3 separate regions of the Homo sapiens genome follow, and all the other regions are linked to region 1. The links come from fine-mapping of genetic effects on gene expression. A gene starts in region 1. Each other region holds a variant in brackets. All regions are shown on one strand. Distances are between the middles of the regions.

Region 1 (10,472 bases):
CCTGACCTTGTGATCCTCCCACCTTCTGCCTCCCCAAAGTGCTGGGATTACAGGCGTGAGCCACCATGCCTGGCCCATGATAATCATTTGAGTTCACATAATCAGCTGGCTTCAGAATGAGGACAATTTGCTTTTATTAACTGTTTACATCCTTATGTTTTCCTCAAGAACCATTAAAATTTAATGGTCTCTATACTTAAGTGAATGGATATAGAATTATTTAGTTTGACTTTCAGAAGGTTTGCATTTTAGCCGAAGATTTAATTCTAGCTGCCCATGCCATGATTACTTTTTGAACAGAAAGAAGTCACTTGATGTTATTGACTAGGAAAAAAAATGGTAATCAGCCAGATGGTACCTCTGGGCAAATTACTCTGTGGGAGTAAGCTTGTTTAGAAACCACACTGATATGAATTAGGAATGTTGAGTATGGTACTAAACAGCTAATGAGGGGCCTGAAAGATTTATGAGCTATTAGGAACCACAGCCATATCTGGCCAAATTTTAGAGTTTTTCTCAATAGAGAGTTACAAAATCTTCTGGAACAGTCTCGTATTATATCTATCTGGAGACTGCTGCGAACAAACAGCTCTTTAGTTCTTGGTAAGAACAAAGAATATTGGGCCAGATTTCTGGCCCCTAAGAAATGTGGAGTCTGTTCCATTTGGCTGGAAGTTTAGTTTGGTATGGAATTTTAGCCAGACTTCTAGGGGAAATAATTTTTTAAAAATGTAATGAAAGCTTATTGCAAAAAGTCATGTGCATTTGGTCTATCTATTCTATTAATGGTCATTTAAACACTTTGTAAATATTCACAGTACTGTTTCCAGCAGCATGTAGTAAGTGCTTGACCTTTTTGTTTCTGAATTTATGGCCATAAACTTTTATGTAGAACTGGGGGAAATTGTAGTCTGCTGTTTATTTAAATTGCAGATAGTTGTCTAACCAACTACCAAACAGTGATTTTTTTTCTCTCTCTGGAAGTTGTTGTGTGATTCACCTTTTAGAATATGGCACCTTCTGTTGTGTACAGAGCACTCTGTTCAAGATTAGACACTTTATTAGAACAGAAATAGAAAATAACTTGACACGAAGACACAGTAGTATAGGAACAATTGACTAGGCAGGCTGAAAGAAGACTTAAGCTTGGCAAAATGATACCCAAACGCAGGGTGTGATATCAGTTCACGAATATTCGAGAGATGGAAAGACCAAAGAGGGAGAGGAATTATTTTGCTTAGTTATTAGAAGTAAGGGGAAGGAATATAGAAAGAGAAATTTCAGACTGAATACCATTGAATTTCCAGACAATAAAAATCGGTCATGAGTGGACTAGAAGCTCCAACCACAGAGATGCTTCTAGACCCACAAGGCAAAAACAGGGCATTTCATTGTGGGAGATGTACCTTAATAGTGGCTGAAAGATCATCTGAACAGGAGAAAGTGGTATTTCATTGACAGCCGCTCTTGAGGGTTTCTCCGTTTGCAGTTACCAAAATCTTTTTTTCTTCTATATGCTAGAAAGAAGACTTGAGATCTTTTTGCTTACTTGTTTATACCCTGACTGGTTCATAACTTAATTTGGAAGAAACATGACATACCTTTGGAAGAAACAGTCTTCAAAAGAAATGAGAATTCAAAAGCTTCAAGTTTTTGTAGTATGAAAGTAGTCTGAATTTGTTTTTTGTCTTTTTTTCATCCATTTTTATTTAGCTTAAGGTAACAGCTAGTTGGCTGGCTACAGTGTGGGAGACAACTCTCACTGGAGTTGGAACCTGAAGACTGAGTTTGAATTCTGACTCAAGCACTCATTAGCTGGGTCACCTGAGCAAGTTGCATATCCTCCCTGAGCACCCCTTTTCCAAAATAATGGGGCAATAATACCATCATGTTTGCTGTGAAGATCAAGTGAAACAGTGTGTGGGAAAGTGTGTACCAGTTTTAGTTATTCATGTTTGTTTTATTTTCTATTGTTGATGAAACAAATGATCACAAAGTAGTGATCATAAATTTATTATCTAACGGTTCTGTAGCCTAGAAGTCTGGTTGAGTTTGACTGGTTTCTTTGCTCTGGGTCTCACAAGGCTGAAGTCAAAGTATTGCTGCCCTGGGCTCCTATCTAGAGGCTCCAGGGGAGAAGGTGGCTCTGCTCCCACATTCATTCAGATGCTGGCAGAATTCTGTTTCATGCCGCTGTAGGACTGAAGTCCCTGTACCATTCCTGGCAGCCTACGGGTGTTTCACTTTCTAGAGGCTGCCTTATTCCCTAGCTTATGACCCTCTTCATCTTTAAAGCTAGTCAAGTCCTTCTGATGTTTCAAATCTCTCTGACCTCCTCTTCTGCTTCATCTTCTCTCTCTCCAGCTAGAGAAAGTTCTCTGTTTTTTAGGGCTCATGTGATTAGGCCCACCAGGGTAATCCAGAATATGCTCCCTATTTTGAAGTCCGTAACCTTAGTTACATCTGCAAAGTCACTTTCATCATGTAACATATCCAAAGGTTTTAGGGATTAAGGTGTGGATATCTTTGGGGCGGGGTTGGGGGGTATTCTGCCTATCACAGTGGTATTTTAGGGTGAGAGAGGAGAGCTTGCAGAACATGAGATTCTTGCCCTGGAGGACTCACAATCCAGTGGGAGAAAGAGGAAAAACAGCAAGAAAGTTCCAATAATAAAGAGTCTGTATGAGATGTTATAGCAGCCCAGGAGACTCCTTGTGTACTTGACTTGGACTGAAGATTTTTCATTATTCTCTTCTTGTTCCCTGGAGAGTCTTGCCTTCATCAAGGTCCTTCAGATGGAATTCATATACCCCAAACACCACCATGTGATTTGATTCCTTAAATGTCCAGAAAATCAAGCTGCTGCCATAGCTATTTGGGACTCTACTGCTTAATAAGATCTCAGCCCTCAGCTCAAAGTAGGAGGAATTATTTTCTTCTTTGATGATGAGGCATAACAAGAGCTCATTGTTCCTCATCTCCTGTTTCTCATCATCAAACCCCACTGAGAGCCTTCTTGTTCTTTACTCCTAGCTCTCTCTACCGTATCAATGTATGTCTTTCCTCCCTCCTCTTTGGAGTGTTCTTGTTTCTTATTGTTTTGAATTAGAAGGCACTTTCCCTGGGCAGTACAGAGGTTACTGTTTAATTCTTGCCACTTGTCATTTCTATTTTAATAATGTTTCCTGGCTATTTGGTCAGGTCTGGGTGATAGTTTTGCAGTAATAGCTACCATTTACTGAGCACTTACCATGTGACAGGTACTATGTAAAGTTCTGTACTTGCATTCTCCAATTTAGACATACTGTGAAGTGTAGGTACTATTTTTATATTCATTTGAACCTAGCTAGGATTTGAACCCAGCTCCAAGCTTAAAGCTTGTACTTGACACTATGTACTTCAGTAATATCAAACAGGAGCTGAAATTGAGGGGCAGCATGAAGGAATTGAAGCAGCACAAGTAGATTCAGGAAACCTCAATTTCAAACTCTGCCTTTACAATCCTTCTGAAAGAGGATTTGCTTCTAGAGCACCAAGGTTGCCTCCATTTTTCCACCAGAGACACTCAAAGTGATTCCTCCTGCAGCTTGTATCTATAGTAGCAGCCAACCACAAAGCACACATGGGCATTTGCTCAGCATTCCATAGAAAAGCCTATTTCTCTGGGAGGTGGTGGGTACTGGGTGTGTGGTGTGCCGTGTAGCGGGCCCCTGAAACACCTTGGCCTTAGCAGTTATAAGTATAGAGAATATCTTCCCCACAGGGCTAGGATGATTAAGATATTTTAAGGATTTAGGATGGTGCCTGTCATTTATTAGGCACTCAATATGTGCTGGCTCTCATTGTCCTAAAAGATTTTTAGTCCATGAGTATTCAAGCTAGTAGAATCCTGTCCTTTTAGCTCTACTTGAATCTAGGCTCAATGTTCAGGAGAAGACACGAGATGCATCTCTGTTGGTCCAGGTCCAATGCTGTGAATCACACCAACTCTTGTGAGTTTGAGCTCCAAAAGGACTGGAATTTGAGGCCAAAGAAGGCAAAATATTTTCCCTCCCCATTCTTGCTAAGTTCTTGGGTTGTTGGTGTAATGGAAACAGACAGTCCTGGGTTCAAATCTAGACTCTACATTTGCCTGCTCAAGTTACCTGCCTGTTTCCATCATGGGAAGAACTTGGGCTGTGGAGAAGGGTAAACCTGGGGTCAAAACCCCAGCTCTGCCAGTGAATGGGCATTTTACTCAGTCAAGTATCCTTTCTGAGGCCATCTCTTTTCTATAAAGTGGGGCAGCAGCAGTTCTTCCTTTGCGGAGTTGTGAAGCAGAGCATAATGCATATGGTATAACCTCACGGGGGCGGCAGCCAGTGAAAAGTCTGGAGCTGCTTTACAGGGGCCATTCATTCATTCATTCATTCAGGTTAAGGTTGAGCAAGGGGTCCCACGTGTGACTTATGCATCCTTCTCCCTCTTCAGTGGGAGGACAGCCAGGTGAGGCAGCTGTGGATGCCCTGCCCACAGGCCAGAGCAGGTAAGGGGAGGAGGCTTGCTACACAGTGGAGGTGCCAAGTACCACCTAAGCCCAGCCGCATTGCCTGTTCCACCGCCGAAGCCCCTGGCGCCAAACAGTGTTGCTTCAGCTGGTAGTAGTTAATACTCCTTTACTTGGAAACATTTTCAGTTCCTGGGAGCAATATGGTGGTGTGAGGTCTCACTGTTCACCCGCCCTGTTTCTCTGTGACTGGGATCTGCATGTCCCCGACTCCGGCCCAATTTACCATTCTTCAAGGCTCACCAGGCTGTGGGCCCAGGGCCAACAGGGATGGGAGTGGAGGGTGGGGTGGAGCGTGGGGAACTTTTCCGGGAAGAGGCCCAGCAGGGTCTTGGCTGGCGGCCCCATTAGCCACGGCCCAGGACCCCAGGGTGGGAGAGTGAACGGAAAGGTACTCGTGCCTGGAGCGGTTGCAACATCCTCTGTAATGAGGAAGATACAGCTCAGAGGCACTGGGTCGAAGGACCCCTCTCCCCAGCCCTCCTTTCAGGTGTCGGGGCCTAAAGGGGGTCCAGTTCCAGTGCGGAAGGCTGGGAACTAGGAAGCGTCGCGGACCAGACAGCCCGCCTTCCCGGTCTCCCGGGTGGGGGTTCGGGGGGCGTGGTGCGGCGGCCGGGGCTGAGAGGGGTCGGTGCGGCGGCTCTGCCTCCCCGGGAAGTGGGAACCGGCCAAGTCCCGAGCGGGGAGGGGCAGGCTTTCTCCTGCCCGCGCCTGGGGGGACCCTACGCCTGTGTCCGAAGGAGGCCGGCGTCCAGCAGATGCTCCCGGGGCGGGTGGGGAGTGGGGGAAGGGGGCGGGAGAGAGGCGGGGAGGAGAAAACCCACAACAAAACTTGCGTCGCGGAGAGCGCCCAGCTTGACTTGAATGGAAGGAGCCCGAGCCCGCGGAGCGCAGCTGAGACTGGGGGAGCGCGTTCGGCCTGTGGGGCGCCGCTCGGCGCCGGGGCGCAGCAGGTACAGGGCGCTGGCAGCCGGGGTGGGCCGAGGGGCCGGGGGCTGAGCCCGGGCAGCGCACTCAGACGTCCCCGCCTCTCCGGATGGCTCCAGCAGCTGCCTGGGGCGGGCCCGCCGCATCTCACCCCCTCTGTAGGACCCTGCACCCAGGGCACGGCCGGAGATCTCCTCCTCTGGAGTGCGACCCCTGCGCAGTCAGGACCCAGGCAGGGGCCTTCTCCTCTCTGAGCAGAGGCTGGTCCCCGTCCCCAGGCCCCTCCCGCTGCGCACATCTGGAAAGAATCTGAGGGCGGTTGGGGGCGGGGGCTGGAGTGGGAGGACGCCGGCGGGCGACAGGGAATGTGGGGGGCAGGTGGAACTGCGTAGGGGCGGGGACCCCTGTCATGAGAGCCTGGGCCCGAAGTATCCCCGCGTCTTTCCACGTCAACTCATCAGGCCCCCTAGCGACTCCAACCTCCACCTCTTTATAGATAGAGAAACTGAGGCCCAGAGAGGGGCAGAGGTCTGGCCCCAGGGCGCGTCGGACGCCGGGTGGGTCCCCTCCGGGGCTCGGCTTCCCCGGCCACTGTGCCGCCCCAGCTTAGTGCCAACCACTAGTTGAGCTAAAGGTCTCAGCTGGCGGTCTGGAGTCCGTCTATCTGTCTACGCGGCTGCTTCCCAGCCGGGACAGCTGGAGGGAGGAAGGGGTGGGGGTCCGCGAAGCGCGAGGAGCGAGATCCGCGCCTTCCTGCGAATGAGGCAGAAGCCCCAGGTTCCAGGTCCCCGAGCCACAGCCCGGCCTGGGGCGGGGGACGAGATCTTGGCGTTGGAATACCTGACGCTCCGTCAGGTGGAAGAGGAGGTGGTGGCGGGGCTGCGAGGCTCCTGGCAGCCTCGGGGGCTGGGGCTAGGAGAGGCAGCCGCAGCCTTTTGGAGAGGAGCAGGCGCGGCAGCAAGGGGCGAGCACCCCGGCCCCGGTGCGCGCGGCACTGACTGAGCTGGTCCGGGAGGCGCGGAGGATGCTCACCCAGCGCTTGGAGTGAATTACTGACCTGTCTGCCCTTCGATTACCGGCTGGCCAGGGAAGGGGAAGCTGTGGTCTGCCCTGCTCCACGAGGCGCCACTGGTGTGAACCGGGAGAGCCCCTGGGTGGTCCCGTCCCCTATCCCTCCTTTATATAGAAACCTTCCACACTGGGAAGGCAGCGGCGAGGCAGGAGGGCTCATGGTGAGCAAGGAGGCCGGCTGATCTGCAGGCGCACAGCATTCCGAGGTAGGTCACTCAGAAGAGCCCGTGGACTGCCCTGGGAAAGACCAGGGGGGACTGCTCTGGGGGTTCTGCTCCCTCATGTCCACTCTTAGGGCCCAAGACCCAGTCTACTCTAGCCTAGAGTGCAAGTTAAGAAATGTCAGAGTCACACGACTGTTTTCATGTCATCTGTGGGAGCACACTTTATCCCTTCTGTCTGAGTCTAGGATAGGGGATTACTAATGGTGGCACTTTTAGGCTTGGTGTAGTCATACATGCGAGTGCTGGCCGTGTCCTGCTTGGAACCCTTAATGAGTCCCTATCACCAACACTAGCATGGCGGTGGAGGCCCTTGGCCACCCAGGCCTCCCGCCCTGTTGACCCTTCCTTAAACACACGTCCCTCTCCTCTAGCCCCACCCCTACCTTTTGATCACACTCTACCTCTGCCTGGAGGGCTGTTTCTCCCACTCCGTCCACTTGGAGAACTCCCGCTCAGTCTTCAAGGCCAACTCAAGGCTCTGGGCAGGAGTCAGAAGACCCACATTTTACTCTTGGCCTTGGCTTTAACACACTAATTTGCAAACTGGGGGAGTCAGAGCAGATCATACTGCAGATCTTTAGATCTTTTCCAACTCTGCCTTTCACAAAGTCGTTCATTCAGCAAACATTTCCCCAGCACCCCCACTCCATGCTTGGGGAGACAGGGGAGGCCCAGCTGAGACTTGAAGGATAAAGCCAGCCAAGGTTGCTGTGGAAGCACCCAGAAACACCCTAACCCAGCCAAGGGGGCAGGAGAGGCTTCCCTGAGCAGGGGCATTTCAGCAGGAGCTTTCTAGGGATGGGCAGCAATGCCAGCCCTTTGTGCTTGAGCTCCAAATCTGCAGAATAGAAAGACGAACATGTAGTCCCAGGATTTCTATTAGAGTCAATAAGATGCAGCTGTTTGGGGCCCAGCACAGAGCAGGTGGTCAGTTGATTTGTACTGACTTTGAGTGGAGAAGGAAGGTAGTGCTGAGGGCTGAGGATCCGCCTCTTGATTTGGGGCTCCCTTTCCCTTCCTTCTTCTAGTCCTACCTTAACCTCACACTTTGGGCCTTGAGGTTTGGTTCCCTGGTAGTGGTCAGGGGAGACAGTGGGTCCCACTTACTTTCTCAGTAACAGTAACCCCTGGTATGTCACACCTATTTGATGCCAGCGGTGACAGGCTGAGACTGCTATTTCATTTAATTCTCACAAGTAGCTCCCAACTCCATTTCTTAGACTAGTTAACAGAGGCTCGGAGCAGTAAAGTGGCTCATCCAGGCTTACACAGCAGTCAGAATTGGAACCCATGCCCTTCTGTCTCTAAAGCTCTCCATATGAGAAACACTCACTGCTGGCTGAGCTTCCCCGCTGTCCAGGGGTTTGAGATGTTCCTCACCAGGTGGACTTGAAACTCCTGGAGACCAGGGAGCTCCCCTGTTCTTCCCCACACACCTCCCACATGGCTGGGTACACAGAAGGGGCCTTGGGGGGCTTATCTTGCTCCATTCTTAGAAGAGCAAGGCTGGGTACAGTGGCTCATGCCTGTAATCCCAGCACTTTGGGAGGCCGAGGCAGAAGGCCAGAAGTTCAAGAACAGCCTGGGCAACATAGTGAGACCCCATTTCTAAAAATAAAAAATTAGCCAGATGCCAGGTGTGGAGGCACATGCCTGTAGTTTCAGCTACTCGGGAGGCTGAGGTGGGAGGATCACCTGAGCCCAGGAGCCCAAGGCTGCAGTGAGCCATGATTGTGCTACTGCAGTCCAGCCTGGGTAACAGAGGGAGACCCTGTCTCAAAAAAAAAAAAGAAAGTTGGAAAATTTAGACTCAGATGGGTCAGTGGTATGGCCAAGGTCACACGGCAAACCAGGTAGTAGGGCTGGACCTTCCCAGTGCCTCACAGCCCTGAGAGTGGCTGGCGAAGCTGGAGGGACCACTCTCCAAGCCCTGTCTGTCCTTCTTACCTCTTCCTCCATTCCTGCAGTCCAGCACCTCTCTCTCTGCCAGGGGCAGGCCCCTTAGCCCTCACCTGTCCCAATTGCGCACCCTCGTGTCCACCCACAAACCTGCCTGTGTCACGCTCCTGCCTTTCAGTGGTCCTCGTCTTCCAGTGATAAGGACCACACTCCCTAACCTGCCCTTCATGTCTCTCCTTTGTGGCCTGGGCTTGTGGCGACTGTGCCTTTTTGTATCACTCCTAGTCCCTATCCCCCACCTGACAGTCTTGTGAGTGTGAACTGTCTTGCCTCTGGGCCTTTGCACACATTGACCCCCTTGCTTGTATGACCCTTTCCCTTTTGCCTGGTAGTCATCCCTTAGAATGGGATTATAATACTCAGCTTATACATAATGCTGCAGACCAGCACTGTCCAATAGAAATGTAACGTGAGCCACAAATGCAAGCCACATATGCAATGCAAAATTTTCTAGAGGTCTTTTTTTTTTTTTTTTTTTTGAGACGGTCTCACTCTGTTACCCAGGCTAGAGTGTAGGGGTGCGATCACGGCTCACAGCAGCCTCAACCTCCTGGGCTCAGGTGATCCTCCCACTTCAGCCTCCTGAGTAGCTGAGACTACAGGTGCATGCTATCTCACCTGGCTAATTTTTTGTATTTTTTAGAGAGACGAAGTTTCGCCATCTTGCCCAGGCTGGTCTCAAACTCCTGGGCTCAAGTGATCTACCTGTCTCAGCCTCCCACACTGGGATTTACAGGCATGAGCCACCTTGTCTAGTCAGAAGCCACATTTTAAAAAGTAAAATGAAACTGGTAACATTTATTTAACCTGTTCAAAATATTATCATGTAATCAATATAACAATAAATGGGATTTGATGTCATTAATATTAATATTAATAAGGTATCCTACATTATTTTTTTGTACGACATCTTTGAGATCTATGGACACTACATTTTACACTTACATCTCCATGTGGACCAGCCACATTTCAAGTGCCCAGTAGCCACATGTGGCCAGTGGCTAATGGAGTGAACGGTGCAGCTGTGGGCCTCTGAAGGGCAGAAGCCACGCTGAGTCTTCTGTCTGGGTCCCCTGCTTCCTGTCATGCTTGGCCTAGGGGAGAGCAGCGTAGCATTGTTGATATGACGTGGGCTGGGAGCTCAGCTTTGCCACTTAACAGCTGTTCACTGGCTGACCCCATTGGGCTCAGCTCCCTGAGTTGTAAAGTGGTGATGATAACATTTTCAGTACGGTGCAGAATGTTAATATAAATTCAATATTTTTATTGATGCAGTTTACAGATTTTTACAGATACCAAATGGAAGGCGAGGAGGCAGAACAGCCTGCCTGGTATGTGCACAGGATATGTGAGACCAGAGCTCCTTCCCCTGGATTCTTCTCCTTGGCCTTCTGCCCTGATTGAATTTGGGACCTGGGCCTGTGCCCACACTCTCGCTCTTAGAACCCCGGACTACAGTGGGGTCAGATGGGCAAGTGGCTAATGGCTGTTGAGCTGGCCGTGGAGTTTATGATGTGCTATGGGAATGATGGTCTGTAGACTGATGTTGGGTCAGGGGCAGGGGCAGCAGGGGTGTGGTGGAGTGAGCGTAGGGCTGGGCTGCTGTGGGAGCCAGTTGCTGCTGCCGACTGATCCCTGGAGCCTGGAAGCTGCAGGTGTGCCGGGCTCCCTGTTTCTCTGCCGGGCCAGTGGCTGAGACCTGAGTCTCCATCAACCATGTGGATCTGTAGGGTCAAGCAAGCCTG
Region 2 (8,000 bases), 62 kb after region 1:
ATTAACCCGCAGAGGCAGTGGGAAGGCCCAGCCTGTCTCAATCTGGTAATTGCTCCACTTGCAGGGGTGGGGGAAGGGAGGCAAAGACTGCCAGGCTCCCGGTGGAAGGAGAAAAAGGCTGCTGACTGACCCTCCCCTGGTTCTCGCACCAACCCCTGAGGTGGGACTCCTGACCCCATCTCACACTGGGAGGTGCAGGGCAGCTCTGCCATTTGCCAAGCGCTGGTTACAAAGGTGAGGGATTAGAAACCACGCCCCCACGAAGTCGAAGTTGTAGTCGCACCTCCCTACAGAGAGAGCCAAGAGAGCCTGCAGGCTGCCCAGCTGCCGGATGCCCCTCCCCCAGTTTGGGGTGACTCCCCATTGCCCTCCGCAACCATCCCAGCTCCTTCCCTGCCCTGCGTCCCCTGGGGCTGGGCCGCTCTCCTCCTCGTCCACTCTGCTCCTGGAAGTACCTTTGCACTGGATGTTCCTCCCGCCTGGAACTCTCCATCCACCATCCCTTCCCCAACCCTGGCCCAATGTCCCCAACCCTGGGTCAGCTTAGACATCACTGCCTCTGGGAAGCCTTCCCTGACTGCAGCCATCTCACCCACTTCCCCAGGGCACCCTGTGCTTCCCAGTTTGTTACGGAGCACCCTGCTAGTGGGCTCAACCCGAATCCCCAGGGCCTGACCCAGCACCTGGCACAGGACGGGCTGGCACGGAGTGCCGGGAGCCCAGTCCCCGCCTTCTTCTCCTTTCCTGTCCTGTGGATGCTGCTCAGCTCTGAAGTCTCCACTCAGGCACCACCGCCCTCTGAAGGCTGCCCTGGCCCTAGGCAAGGCGAGGAAGCTCCCGTAAGCATCCCTCACTCACTGCGAGCCCTTGGGCATGTGACTGGGCCTGGGTGTGCCTCAGTTTCCACTGAGGATGAGTGCGGATGATGCCGGTTTGCTGTGAGGCCAAATCTTGGGTTGGAGTGGTACATGGCATGTGATAAGTACGCACTGCATTTCAATTGTTATAATTTCCTCTGTCTTCACTGTCTGTCTGTGACCACCTGTCCCAGCAGACTGGAACTCCTCCAAGGCAAGGCTAAGTCTAGTTTGGCTCTAGGTCCTTAAAACCCAAGGTCTGGCACAGGCCTGGGTGCAGGGTTGCTGATGTGTGTGATGCTGAACCAGGGTGACATTCTAGATCAGACGTGAAAAGGACGACTTGTGTGCCCAGGTGACTGAGCAGCCATTGAAGGTTTCCTGAGAACAGATCACCAGTACCAGCCTTGGTCCCCGGATGGGCTTAGGGGAATGCCCACGGTGTTGTGTGTCTGTGTGACATCGAGACAGTTGGCACCAGAAATCTGGGAAGAGATGGGGGCTTGGTGAAGGGACAAGGAGCTGAATGTCCTGGGCAGTAGAGAGGGTGTCTAGAGATCAGCTTCAGGACTCTGCTTTCGGCCCTCTCCTTTCTGGTCATTTTAATCAATGGCTTGGCCAAGGCCCCCGACAGCATGTGGAGCAGATTTGTAGAGGACAGGAAGCTGGGAGGAATAGCTAATGTGCTGGATGAGGGAGTTGGGAATCCAAGCAGACCCCAGCAGTCAATTCTGACACAATGAGCCTGAACACAGACATGTGTTGGGCCGCACTTGGCTTCCACAGCTTGGAGTGCACAAACACCGGGGTGGGAGGGGGAGGCTGAGCCGTGGCTGCACACGTGGGGAGGGGACTTTGGGCTTTGTTTGCTGCCAGCTGGTGAGTCACCTGGGACGCGGGGCTGCCAAAGGGCTGGTGGGCCCCCTGCCTGTGGCTTCAGAAGCCCGGGGGCTGGTGGAGGCTGCTGCAGACCTGCTTTGACTCATTGAGAAAGGGACGGGGCGGGGTGTGTGTGTCCTGTAGAGGGCAGCTGGGTAGGCAGCAGGTGATAGAGGCACGTGCCTGGTTGCGGGGAGCAGCTGGGGGGCTGGGGGGCAGGTGCTGTGTGGTCCGGAGCGGAGCAGACCTGGGAATGCTGGGGATGATGGGAAAAGCCCTAGGGCTCTCAGCTCAGCACCAGGAATAACTTTCTGGCAGAGCTGTCCTGCTCTGGCAGGAACTACCTTGAGAAGTGGTGACCTCCCAGTCACTGGAGGTGTGCAAGCAACTTGCTAAAGTCACACAATAAGTGGGTTCAAGCCCTAGTCTGCTGGCATGACAGCATCCAGTCACAACCTCCTGGCAGTGGGAGGACCTGAGGGACAGTGAGGAGCCCCAAGCCCTGCAGCCAAGTCCTTGGGCTCTGGCCTTGGCTGACCTAGCCACAGAGGCTCTCCCCAGCTGGCCCTGGGATGCAGCTGCAGGAAGTCTACCAGACAGGCCGCAGGAAGGAGGCTTCGGGGGTCTGCGGGCAAGAGGGGTCCCTTCAGTCCATCTGAGCATCATGGCTTACTCTTCTTTTCCCCTGAGCAGAAGGCAGGCCCAACAGCTGACAGCCAGTGCCATGCCCATTAGCGCCAGCTCCAAGTCATGCTTCCCAGACGGCTCTGCCAAAGCCCCACACTCAAGCCGACTCCTCCTGAGGCCTAAGGCAGCATGCCCAGACTCCCACTCAGCTAAAGTCTGGGCCATCTCGTCTCAGCACACCCTCCCAAGGGCAGAAATTCCTCCACCACCTCTGCTTGCATATCTCAGAGGACAGAGCACTCACTACCTTCTGAGTCAGCCCCTCCACTAAGAGCTCGTGATGCTTATTAGGAAGTCCTTCCTGGTGTCACAATGAAATCCGCCTCCGGGGAAGAGCATTGGGCCACACTGGGCCCAGCCAGCCCTCTGGAGCCACATGGACCAAACCTCTTGGCCTCCACCTTGATTTCCATGGAGGGAAGGTGGGAGAGAGTGTGGGGCTCAGAGTGTGGGCGGTGGGTGCTGCTACCCTGGCATGCCCTGCTGCCCTCTGAAGGTCCCTCCTTCCCAGGCCTGGGTGCCAAGAGGGCGCTCCACTGGGACCTGTGAGAATGATAAGCTTGAACTGGATCAAAAGCAGAAGCTGGAGGAGCCACAGCTGCAGCCCTCAGAGCTCACTGTCAGACTGCCGGCCATTCTCAACCATTCTCCACCAAGAAGGCTGCATTCCCTAAGGCAGTCAGGGCCAGGTCCAGTTTCCAACTCCACGTGAACTGAATCCCCCACCCCTTCCTTGCCCATGTGGCAAAGATCATGAGGAGTCAGGGGAACTCAGGTCTCCTGCCTCCCCTCCCTGCACCAGCAGGGCCCCTGGAGTCTGCCCCGCACAGGGCTCAGGCGGGGCCATCCTGTGGGCCTCTCTCCAGTGCAGCGGTTCTCCACAGAGAAGGGCGGCAGCACAGTTTTCAAAACCTCACCCACCTTCCCAGGCTCTGAGATATGTGCCCACCCTGCCCGGTGTTGAACATTTGCACTGGGTGCTGTGGGGCTCAGAAGGGAATGAGGTGGGTCTGTGTTCTTCCTGGTGCTCTGGCCAGCGGGTGGGGAGACCAGCAGCAGAGCAACACCAACCCGGGGGTGGGGGTAGCTGTGACTGAGCGCCAGAGCAGGGCCAGCCCTCCGGGCATCGGGCTGGGCCTCCCAGAGGAGGGCACAGCTGGATGGAGCCTCGAAGGCCAAGTAGGAATTCTCTAACTGGAAGGGAGCGAGAGCATGGAAGTCTGTGGTGCAGGATAAAGCCTGGGAGCTTTTCGGAGTCACCAGGCTGGAGGTCTGACCCCACCCGCAGCCCACAGCGGGCCACGTTTCCCCTCTTGATGAGTAAGGCAAATCATCTGACTGGGCAGAAGGGCCAAAGGCAGGTCCCAGGGCTCACACCAGAAGGTTCAGTGGAGCTCGCCAAACTGTGGCTACCCCCTGACTCGGAGGGCAGCATCCGAAGCACAGGCTGTACCGGTTTGGCCCTCTGGCCACCCGCTCCTCTGCCTCCTCCTGCTCACGGCCTGTCCTGGGGAGTCTGGGCAGCCCCCTGCACACTGGCTCCCAAACCAGACTTTGACGGCTGCTTGGCCCAGGCCCATTTCCAATAAGTTAGAATGTGGGTGTTTGGGAATTTTCTGCCACACTAG[A/G]GTTCCTCAGGAAGGGGAGAAGGGAGTGTTGAGTTTCTCTGGCCAAACATGATTTCCTGATTCTAAGAAAAATCAGTTTAAAGTCCTTACAAGAAATAGGAAGGAAAACAATACATACACAACACACACACACACACACACACACACACACACACACACACAACACAGCTTCACAGACAAACCCACACCCACGCTTGGCTGTCTTTGCTATGTTGTGGAGCTCACAGAACACTCTATCATGCACAGCCCTAGTGAATCACAAACACATGGATTCAGTTTCCCCTGAAGGACGCCTGGTTTAAGAAACTGAAGAATGAGGGGAGAGAAGGGTTTGGCAAAAAGCAAGTGGAGAATTGGAGGCTCTAGCTGGATCCAGATGCTGGTCTGACTTACCCCTAATTCCTTGTGTCAAGCTTGTCTGGGGATGTGTGAAAACAAGGCTCAGTTGACCTCCCAAGGTGAGGTGCAAAGTCTAGCCTCAGTGGAATGGGGCCATAATGGGCCACACACACAAACACACATGGGCACACAAACACACACACAGAGCACCTGCCGGGACCTGCTTTGTAAATTAGCAGACAGCATTGTGCCTATTTTATGGCTGAGGCTAAGAGGGTGAACTCGAGGTGAGACCACAGTCCCGAGGCAGGGCAGCTCCCTCAAGAGTCTAGCAGCCTCCCAAGTGCCTTGTGACAGGCAAAAGACTTTGCAAACTCTGTGCCTCCCGAGTGGGTGAGTAAAACAGGATCACCAAGGTGAAGGTGCAGCGTGGAAATTCTTATGACATCACATTGGGGGAAAACCAAAGCAAGCAGGCTACAGATTTATTTTTGTGGAAGATACTTTTTGGGTTATACTGTAAGTTGAAAGCAAAAAGGATTGGGGTAGTGACAAGTGGCCTGCTCGGGGAAGAATGGGAAAGTAAGGCTCCCAGGCCCTGAAGGCTTGACTTTTCTAAATAAAGATATAATTGGCATGGCGTTAGTGAACTGTGGCAGCACACGGAAGACGGCTGAGGAGGGCAAAACCATGGGAGGGGGGCCCCAATGCAGGTCCCGTCCAGATGATTCGTTCCTATACTAATGTAATGTGAGGCAGAATTTTCTAATTTTTGTCCAAGGCGTCTCTGTTCCTGGGTGGACAGAGCAAGTTCCCCTGCAGGCAATTTTATTTTGCAAAGAATCTTTTGAGCAGCAAATGTCGGATGAGAAGGCAGCACTGTCAGGGGAAGGGAGGAGCTGTTGTGGCTTGATGAATGCCTCCTCCTTGAGAACTTGAGATCTGCAGAGTTATGGAAAACTGTGCCCATTTGCACCAGAGGATCAGGGCCTTCTGAGAGGAAAAAGACTAAGACCTGAGCCCCAGTTCCCTGTGATTTGAAGTTAGCACCAGGGTACGCTAGAGTCCCCCAGCCGAGATGGCCTGGCATTCAAGGCCTCCAAAATGAACCCAGTAGGAGGGAAAAGGGAATTGGGGCTCAACTCCCGGGGAGCTGATCTCAGGACATGACTGAGGCTGCTTTAGGAACAATTATTGAGCACTTCGGGGGGACCTAGGGGTCTGGAGGCATCCCTGTGGCCTGAGCAGCGTTGTGCACCTGCAAGGGGCAGTGTGCAGACTTCCACCAGAGCGTGCGGGACCTGCGTTCCACAGGGCCACCCCGTGGAGGGAACCAGAGCAGCAGGGCTGGTGGCAGGACCCCATGTTCCAGCTCTGTTTACACCAGAAGCTTCCACTGAATGAAATAAGCTGACTGTGGCCACGGGGTGGAGGCCTCCAGAGGGACACACTGGGCTTCCTGCTAGTACAGGGGAGTAGGACCATATTCAGTGTATTCAGTTTCAAGTCAGTAAAGCAAAAACAAAGTGTAATTAATTTTGCCTTTGAAAATCTCTTAAGTTGCCCATAGAGTCCAGGAGGTATAGTTTTGTGTAAGTTCATTCAAGACAGTTTCCCTTCCAGCCTTGGAGTGGGTTGCTGTTTCTTTAAGCAAACACCAGATGAGAGCATCAGCATACACTCAGAGGCCGTGATCTAAAACACCCACCCCTCTGCAGGCCCTAGAAACTCTCTGGCTTCAGGGAGGTGCTCACTGTTCAGGAGGTGCCTGGGCACAGCGGCTGGTGGAGGCAATTCAGGCCCTCCTCTCTCGTGGCCCTCACCTGGGGAAGAGCCCTTGGAAGGAGGAGTCTCCTGTCTCATTTAAATGATTTTCTCCCTTTTTCAGAGCACATGTAATTGAATTCACTTAAGTTAAATGCACATATGATGGGACTCCACTATAAGGCGGGGGTGGTGGGAGGGCTGAAATAAACTGAAAACCGCAAACCTGGAGTTACGCCGGGTTATACAGTTAAATAACTAAATGTACCCACCAGCAAGCAGATTTCACCAGTGGGTTCCCTGCATGGTAAGCCCACAGAGAGGCTCTGGCCAGAGCCTGCATATGACTGTCCTTGCTGGCAAGTGTCTTGATCTCTGGGAATGAATAAATCAGTATGTGGCATATTTGATTGCCCCTTGCTAGCATCGGGGGACAGGCCCAACCAGCTCTGGGGCCCAGACAGTTGGGCTTCTGATCCCATCAGCCAAGGACCTCACCTCACATCTGGTGAATTCACCAGTAAGAATAAGAACAAACCTTGTAGAGAAGAAATCACAGTGGCAGAATTAGCAATGTGGAGTGAGAGGATGGTTTCTTCTCTGTTATCCAAAATGTTTGTAATTTGCTTATCTAATTTTTTTTTTTTATGAGATAAGGTCTTGCTTTGTTGCCCAGGCTGGAGTGCAATGGCATGAACATGGCTCACTGCAGGCTCAACCTTCTGGGCTCAAGCGATCCTCCCACCTCAGCCTCCCAAGTAGCCAGGACTACAGGTGCCCACCATCATGCCTGGCTAATTTTAAAAGTTTTTTTTTTTTTTTTTTTGTAGAGATGGGGTCTCACTATGTTGCCAGGGCTTTATCTAATTTTTTAAAATATGAAAACATCTTTAAAGTTCAGCTCCTAACTGTCCTCCAGGGCCCATACAAATGCTGATGGTGAGACTTTCCCTGAACTCTGCTGCCGCTGCCCTCTGCTGCTTCTTATTCATTGAAAATGTATTGATCAGGCACAGGCAGTAGCAGGCCCTGTATGGGGCAGTGAGAAATCAGATGAAAGGGGGAGAGTTATATTCTTCAGAATTATTTTTACAGTAAGGGAGCAGTCCTTATTCAGAAGAAAGTTCTTGATGAACTACTTGGACAGAAGCTGAGCAGTGGCTCCACTCAACCCAAGCCGGCTCCAGGGAGAGAGGTGAGCAGAAGTGACTTCTGAAAGACATCCAGCTGCTCTGGGGACAGAGGAAGAGAGAAGGAAGGTTCCAGGAGAGAGAAGGAGGTGGACAGGCCCTCAGGCCACCCCGATGACCCAAGCCCTGGTATATCCTCCTCCCGCAGTGTGGCAGTGCCTGTGACTTCTATGAGAACACAACAAGGTGGTGGGATGTCTCCCTGTGGTTATGTGGTAGAAGACTTTGACTCAGAAGACTGGTGAGGACCGGGCTTCCTGCTGGCCTTGATGACCTACAGTGCTATGCTGTGAGCTGCCTGTGGAGACAGCTGGGTGGGGAGCTGCAGGCAGCCTCTAGAACCTGAGTGGCTCCACTGCACAGCTGTCAATGCTGGGCCCTCAGGCAGCAGCCATGGGGAATCACTTCTGTCCATGCCTGAGGGAGCATGGAGGCGGATTCTCCCTGGTTGGGCCTCCGGATGAGAACAGAGCCCAGCGGACACCTGGATTGCAGCCTAAGACTCTGAGCAGAGGACTCAGCCAAGCCCGCCCAGACTGCTGGCCCAGGGACTGAGGCAACCATGAAGTGTGTTTATGTCACTAAGTTTGTGATAATTTGTTACACGGCAATGATAACGAATACACACAGACACACACACAGAGAACCAGGAGATA
Region 3 (8,000 bases), 74 kb after region 1:
GAAAGCACAATGCATGATTGCAGGATCCATTAATTAATTCACTTGACCAGTATTAATGAGCACCTACTATGTGCCTGGCACTTGGCTAGGTGCTGACAACACAGAGTTGAATCTAGGCAGAGTAGCCTCGTTAACTTTGCAAAGCTTACAGCCCAGTGGATAAAGAAACCAGTTAACAAGTGAATGCATATAGAATGACAACATATGATATGTGCTGTGGCCGGGAGGGAACAGGGTACAGTAAGGGAGAGCCAGGGTGGCATGAAGGGGTTGGTGGGGAGGGCCTTCCTAAGAAGATGATGTGCAAGTTGAGATGGAAAAAAAGAGGAAGAAGAAGAGATGTAAGATGTTGGGGAAGCATGTTCCAGAGGAAGGAACAGCACGTGTGGAGGCCCTGAGATGGTAAGGGCTTGGTCTGCTTAGGGAACTTGAGGCTGGTGGGACTGGAGTATGTGACATGGGATGAGGTGGGGTGGGCGAGGCAGATCATGCAGGGCCTCCTAGACCAGGTTAATGGTCTGCAGGTTGATTCTACATGTCATGGAAGCTGTTGAAGGTAAATGAGGGGCAGGGCCCAATCTGCTTTTCTCAAGATCCTTCTGGCCACTGGGTGGAATAGATGGGACGGGGACAAGAAGTGAGGCGAGGAGACCAGTGAGGTGGCGGTGGAGTCTGGACGTGAGAAGAGAGTGCCCGGGCCTGTAGGGTTGGGAGGAAGCTCCATTCTTCGACTGAGTAGGCAGAATCCACTGGAACTGTGGATGGGGCTGTGGGGTTGAGAGAAAGAGGATAGCCAATGACAGGCCCGATGGAAGACCTGGGTGATGGAGCTGCCATTTGCAGACAAGAAGAAAACAGGAAAAGGAGGCAGTTTTCTGGGTGGAACTTCAAGTTGGTGACATTAAACTTGAAGTGTGGCTGGGCACGGTGGCTCATGCCTATAATTCCCGCACTTTGGGAGGCTGAGGCAGGTGGATTGCTGGAGCTCAGGAGTTTGAGACCAGCCTGGGCAACATGGTGAGACCCCGCCTCTACAAAAAATACAAAAAATAATTAGGTGTGGTGGTGTGTGCCTGTGGTCCCAGCTACTTGGGGGGCTGAGGTAGGAGGATCACTTGAACCCAGGAAGCCGAGGCTGCAGTGAGCTGAGATTGTGCCACTGCACTCTAGCCTGGGCGACAGGGCAAGATCCTATCTCAAACAAAACAAAACTTGAAACGTTTGTGAAACATCCAAGTGGAGATGTCAAATAGGCAGTTGGTTAATGAAGTATGGAGCTCACAGGAGAGGTCTGGGGAGATCTCCATCTGGGGGCATTGGGCTTGTAGGTGGTATGTTAAAGCTATGAAATTAGATGAGAAAAGGCTGGAGAAGCTGAACATTTGGAGGTTGAGTAGAAGGAGAGAGACCAAGATGGAGGGGCAGAAAGCAGGCAAAAAGTTAGAAGAGTGTGAGTCCATAGGGAAGGGCATTTCATGAGGGCAAGAGTAATCAGCTGCACCCATGGCTGTGGAGAGGCCGTGTGGAAGAACTGGACGTGTCGTACAGATTCAGCAACACAGAGGACTGCTGACCCTGACAGATTCACAGGCTCAGTGAATGACTCCAAAGATGCAGAAAGAGGAGACAGTCACTAGAGTGAGTTGAGGAGTCAGGGAAGGCTTCCTGAGGGAGGTAGCATTTCAGCAGAGCCTTGAAGGCTGAGTCCTGAGAAATTTAAATGCTGCTTGCAAAGGCCTCTGTGCAGAAAATACAAAGCGCCCTTGGCCTGGGGATTATCTCCACTTCACAAAGGGGGGAGGTCCAAGGAGCTGGCTCACTGCTCAGCAGCAGGGAGGCTGGGAGGCAGAACGCATGCAGAGGCTCATCCTCTTTCCTCTCTGCAGAGGAGTCCTGGAAGATGAAGATTTCTCATGGCCTCAGAGCAAAAGGCTCTTAGACACCACCTGGAGCAGCCACTCATTATACATCTGGAATACTCAAGACCTGGACAGGGATAGGGTTGCTCAAGTTCACCTAGCACATCAGTGAAAGGGACCAAGTGATCTCCCATGATTTCCATGGCCCGCACCCTACTGGGTAAGGTCTGAATTCTTCAGCCTGGTGTTCAAGGTCGTTCATGATTGGGCAAGAGCTCACCGTCCAAATTCATCTCGCACCATCCCGCCCTTGTCCCCAAGTCCCAACCTCCTGAGTGCTCAGCATACACAACATATAGTCTTCATGACAACCCTTCGAAGTAGGTGTTGTTATTCCCATTTTACAGATGAGGAAACTGAGGCGTAGAGAGGTGAGGTAATATGTCCAAGGTTACACAGCCAAGCCAGGCTGTGATCACTGGAGTATCCTCAGAGTTAGTTCTCTTTTCCCCAGGCCTTGCTGCATTACCATGAACAGCCCCTCCTCTGGGAAGCCAACCCTCAACTCCCTGGCCTTGAGCTATCTTGGAGTCGGGTCATATCCGTTGATTCCAAATCACCTGTTCTATCCACTAAAAATTCTACTGGATGGAACCAACAACTGGGGCCACTGAATGACTCAGAAGCCGGCAGCCCACGGCACTGCCCATAAAGGCCCCACGGTCACACTCATCCCAGGGCCTGTGGTTGCTCTCCAGCCACCCACAGCAGGAGCAGGGCAGCAACAGAAGCCATCCTCTACCCTCCTGGTTCCGGACCACCTGGTCAAACCCCCGCTCTCACCTGGAGACCACCAGTGGCAGGATCATCATCTTCAGCATCCTCATCAGGAGCTCTCCAGGGAACTGGAAGTAACTAATTTCCTGAAAACACAGTAAGAACTGGGGTTATAGCAAGAGATGCAGACTGCACAGTGGTTCCGTTCTTCACAGTCTTTGAAGCACTATCCCATCTGACTCCCCTGTCTAGCACATGGCAGCAGAGACCATGGAGAAAGAACTGGCTTTGGAGCCACAGAACTGGGTTCCAATCCTGGTAAACACCCCGCCTCCACCAATCCCCCACAAGCTGTGTGGCCTTAAGCATCTTCTGTGACCACTCTGAGTTTTGTATTTTTCTCATCTGTAACATGAGGGTAATAACTACAGTAGTCCCTACTTATTCTCAGCGGACAGGTTCCGAGACCGCCAGTGGATGCCTGAAACCACAGAGACTGAACCCTGTGGACGTTGTTTTTTTCCTATATGTACATACCTACGATAAAATGTAATTCATAAATTAGACACAGTAAGAGATTAACAGTAACTAATAATCAAATGGAGCGATTAGAATATACTGTAATAAAAGTTATGTGAATGTGGTCTCTCTTAAAATATCTTCCAGTACTGTTCTCACCCATTTTTCAGACCATCGGTAACTGAAATCACAGAAAGCGAAATGGCGGATAAGGGGGGACTGCTCTGCCTCACAGGGTCATTGGGGGGCTTAAACGGGAGAATGCACGCAAGCACTTAGCACAGCGCCTGGATGACAGCCAATGTTTGGTAATCCTGAAAATAACAGCTCTCCTCCATCTGCACCACGCATCTGCCTAGCCATGGAATAAAATCTCTCTCGTGTAGCAGATGGCAGGTGACCAGAGGACAGAGCCGAGTACTGTTCATGCATTCATTCAACCCGCATCGTGCCACGCATCACAGTGGGTACCCCAACATGAACTAGGCAGGGTTCCTGTCCTGAGAAGTTCCCAGCCTAGCTGGTGAGGAGACCCACTCCTAAGCAGACCATGGCCGCCTTGCGAGTCAGTTTCTCCATCTGTTTTGGGTCCATTCTCTAGTGCTTCTCCTCGAAAATGCTGAGAGAGAGAGGATCAGATTGAATGGGTGCAACACCACGCGGTAGAAACAGCCCCCTTTGGCAGAGTTCTTACGCCTGACCCCTTCCTAGGCCGCTGGCTCCAGCCTGTCCACGGATCTCTGACTAAGGCGCCAACTCCTTGCCC[A/G]ATAAGCTGTCTCGCAAGTAACAGTCACGTGACCAGGACCTGACAACTGAAGCAGAAGGGCTGCTAAGCCCAGTTAAATCAGACTTTCAGATAACAACATATAGTTCATTCTTATACTAAAAAAAAAAAATGCTGTTTATCTGAAACTCCAGTTTAACTGGGTGTGCTGTTTATAAAATTTTTTAACTTAATTCAGTTCTGCTACTTCTGGCAACCCTGGCATGGGGCCACTTTCTTCAGAGGGTGAGGTTGTGGGCGAGGCAGGCAAATGGACTTTCAAACATCATCCAAGTTGAATTGTTGTACTTGCAACTATTTTTTTTTAACCAAAGCCAAACATACTCGGTTGATGATCTGATGCTTTAAAAATCTCCAAATCATCAAATGTTGGTGCTATGAGGGGACTCTTGAGATCTTCTAGCCCAGCCCACTCATGTGATAGATGAGGAAGCTGAACCGCAAAAGGGAGGTGACAGACCCACCCAATGTTAACCGCAGCACAGGACCAGGACTGCTAACATTTCCAATGCACCAGAAAATCTGCTTTTTAAAGAAATATGCCCATCATGACTCTCTCTCTCTCTATATATATATATATAAAATAATATATATAATTATATATTATATATATATATTTTTTAGACAGAGTCTTGCTCTGTCACCAGGCTGGAGTGCAGTGCAGTGGTGCCATCTCGGCTCACTGCAACCTCCGCCTCCCAGGTTCAACCAATCCCCCTGCCTCACCCTCCCAAGTAGCTGGGACTACAGGTGCGCGCCACTATGCCCGGCTAAATTTGTGTATTTTAGTAGAGATGGGGTTTCACCATGTTTGCCAGGATGGTCTTAATCTCCTGACCTTGTTGATCCGCCCGCCTCGGCCTCCCAAAGTGCTTGGATTACAGGCGTGAGCCACCATGCCCTGCCAACAATATATTTTTAATTAACTTTAGTCCATATATTTATATAAACATATATATAATATATATAAACATATATATAAACATATATAATATATAAACATATATAATATATAAACATATATAATATATATAAACATATATAATATATAAAAACATATATATATTATATATATATATATTTTTTTTTTTTTTTTTTGAGACAAGGTCTCATTCTGTTACCCAGGCAGGAGGGCAGTGGCATGATTTCAGCTCACTGCAACCTCCACCTCCTGGGCTCAAGTAATCTTCACACCTCAGGCTCCCGAGTAGCTGAGACCACAGATGTATGCCACCAAGCCCAGCTAATTTTTGTATTTTTTGTAGAGACAGTGTCTCACTATGTTGCCCAGACTAGTCTCAAACTCCTGGACTCAAACAGTCCTCCCAGCTAGGCCTCCCAAAGTGCTGGGATTATAGGTGTGAGCCACTGCACTGGCACCCACATGTATATATTCTTTAAGTTAAAAGTGCTCTAATAGCCAGGCTCAGTGGCTTATGCCTGTAATCCCAGCACTTTGGGAGGCCAAGGTAGGTGGATCACTTGAGGTTAAGAGTTCGAGACCAGCCCAGCCAACATGGCAAAACCCCATCTCTACTAAAAATACAAAAATTAGCTGGGCATGGTGGTGCATGCCTGTAGTCCCAGCTACTCAGGAGGCTGAAGCACAAGATTCGCTTGAACCCAGGAGGCGGGGATTGCAGTGAGCTAAGATCGCACCACTGCACTCCAGCCTGGGCAACAGAGGGAGACGCTATCTCCAAAAAAAAAAAAGTGCTCTACTGATAAAAAGGCAGCTCTTGCCTCACCTCTCTCTATCCCTATCTTGCAACTTCCCAGTAGTGAACATGCTCAGTTCTTCTAGCTGTTTCCCATAGTATCACTATTTCTAGATAATATGGTCATAATGCTATTTCTTGATTCATCATTTTGACATCTATCAATTTCCCTGCCATGATTGATGAGGAGTTAGTTCTTACTCCCTTTCTCTCCACCTATTTCAGCATTATATTTATATCAATTTTTTAGTAAATCAAGATTTACAATGTTTTGATCGCCAAACAGTGTTTACCATTGAGCCAAGTAATGTACTACAACCATGTCTCCTTGCTTGTAGCCTAAAGTTAATTGACTGATTTTTATTTGTCTTGTTTTCTGGGAATCACCCACTAATTTCTTCCAAACATTTTAACATGTCTACTAAACTACCTAACAATAGTATTTTCTGCTCTCTCAAGCACATCAGTTCTCTTTTATCCTGCCTGGGGCCTTGGTCTGTGAGCTTTCCACCTTCCTGCTCCAGTTTGGACTGACTGCTCTCTAGGCCCAGTGCTTGTCATGGTTTCCTTCTTGGTTGTCATTCTGGGACTTGTCCTTTAGAGGGCCCCCTGTTTCTGGGATCCTTTGTCCTCTTGGTTTACTTCCTTGTTTTGCTGAAACATCTCCTTTGGTAGCTTTCTGAGAAAGAGTGGATGGGAGATAAACTTTTCTGAGTCCTTACATGAGTAAAAATGCCTTTATTCTACCTTTACCTCTGATATTAGCCTGGCCATGTGTGAGATACTTCGTTGGAAATAATTTCCCCTCAGGTTTAGAAGGTGTTTCTCCCTTGTCTTCTAGCTTCCAGTTTGCTTAAGATGTTCAAAGCCATTCTGATTTCCTGTTCCTTAGATGAGGTTGGTTTTATTCCACCAGAACCATCCAAAGATCATCAGTTTATCTCCACTTTTTGGTAATTTCATGGTGATGGGCCATAGTATGGGGTTTTCTTTCTTTTGTAAACAAAATTGACAGTGCTATGCTTGCCTTTCACTTCTGAGAAACTGCTTAGATTCTCTGCAAACTGTTTCTCCTCTATTTTTCTTCTGTTAGCTGTCTCTAAAAGTGTCATTAGGTAGCTGGACATTGAACATTCTAATTTTCTTATATTTTCTTTTTCTATTTTCATTTATTTTTGTTCTAGTTTCTGGGAGATTTCTACAACTTTATCCCAGTTATTGACATTAATTTTTTTTTTTTTTTTGGAGATGGGGTCTCACACCATGTTGCCCAGGCTGGCCCTGAATGCCTGGGGTCAGGCAATCCACCCGCCTTGGCCTCCCAAAGTGCTAGGATTACAGGCATGAGCCACCAGGCCTAGCCAAAGTTTTTATATTAATATATAATATTTGTACATATTTATGGGATACAGTTGGTATATTGTTAAATACACTGTGTAATGTTCAAATCAGGGTATTCAGGGTCTCCAACACTTCGAGTATTTATCCTTTCTATGTGTTGGGCAGCTACTCACATTTTTATCTTAGTTCTTCTATTTTTAATTTCCCCAGATTCTTTCTTGTTCTCTGATTGTTCCTTCTTTTCACATCCCCTCTGTTGTACGGTAACTATATCTTCACTCGCAGCTCCAGAAAGCTTAAGAGGAGATTTACAAAGCTTCCTTCTCCTCCCCGCCTTGTCTCTGCTTCACTAGAGACCCACTTTTCTCTTTGTTTCTCTCATTAGAGACCCCCTTTTCTCTTCGTTTACTCTGTTTCACATTAGGAGCCTCCTCACATTTCTGGTGGCGTGGCTTTCTGCTCGTATGTAAGTTTGAAGCGCTAAACTTCTGCATGTATGAGTAGGGTTTGTCAACTGACGGCCCTCAGGGCAGGGTGACAGGTGCTGATCTGGCTTTTTCACTGGGGCTGGGTGGGATGGTAGAGGAGTCTCCTTTATAGCAGAATTTAGAGATCTTTTCTCTGAGGCCTCAGTGAGAGAAGTCTCTTCCTGCCTTTGGCTGAGGAATGACATGGTGCCTAAGCTCAGCTGACAGCGATCTGAAACCGTGCTGGGGACCCCACTCAGACAAGGATGTCTGTTAATTAGTTTGAAGTAGGTGCCTCAGCATGGCCCTCTCCCCAACACACACAGGGGTGGCCCAATACCCTCAAGTCCAGCTTCTCTGGTTCCTTGGGGCAGGCAGTGGGTGGAGATGGGTGGATGAGTCCCCCAACTGAATTGGAAGGTCCCTAGGGGTCTAACTGCTCTGGTTACAAAACTCCAAACCATGCCCAGGCTTTCAACCCCAGCCTCACCCTGCCTAGTGCAGCATCTTGCTCTGTTACGTTCTGGAGTCTGCA

Which allele goes with the higher level. Alleles are on the strand shown, and positions count from the first base shown. SD is a standard deviation of normalised expression in the study named. Not every link is listed here.
As copies of A replace G in region 3, the expression in atrial appendage of the gene that starts at base 5,404 in region 1 goes down (small effect, 0.18 SD a copy in GTEx).

Evidence for each region. PIP is the estimated chance that this variant, and not a neighbour inherited with it, causes the effect.
Region 2: its variant is fine-mapped to the expression of PODN in lung (TOPMed, PIP above 0.99).
Region 3: its variant is fine-mapped to the expression of PODN in atrial appendage (GTEx, PIP above 0.99).

What each region holds. Positions count from the first base shown.
Region 1 is chr1:53,056,810-53,067,281 of GRCh38, forward strand. PODN (podocan) reads left to right here and starts at 5,404. Exons shown (of 11, transcript NM_153703.5): 1 at 5,404-5,499. RefSeq lists a silencer at 5,382-5,569.
Region 2 is chr1:53,120,078-53,128,077 of GRCh38, forward strand. The region is part of intron 2 of SLC1A7 (solute carrier family 1 member 7); the gene reads right to left. Among named protein-coding and RNA genes, the nearest start is that of SLC1A7, 19 kb to the right of the region's middle. RefSeq lists enhancers at 529-5,306, 1,843-2,642. The variant A/G (reference allele first, on the strand shown) is at 4,052.
Region 3 is chr1:53,131,648-53,139,647 of GRCh38, forward strand. SLC1A7 (solute carrier family 1 member 7) reads right to left here. Exons shown (of 11, transcript NM_006671.6): 2 at 2,703-2,782. Among named protein-coding and RNA genes, the nearest start is that of SLC1A7, 7.0 kb to the right of the region's middle. The variant A/G (reference allele first, on the strand shown) is at 3,922.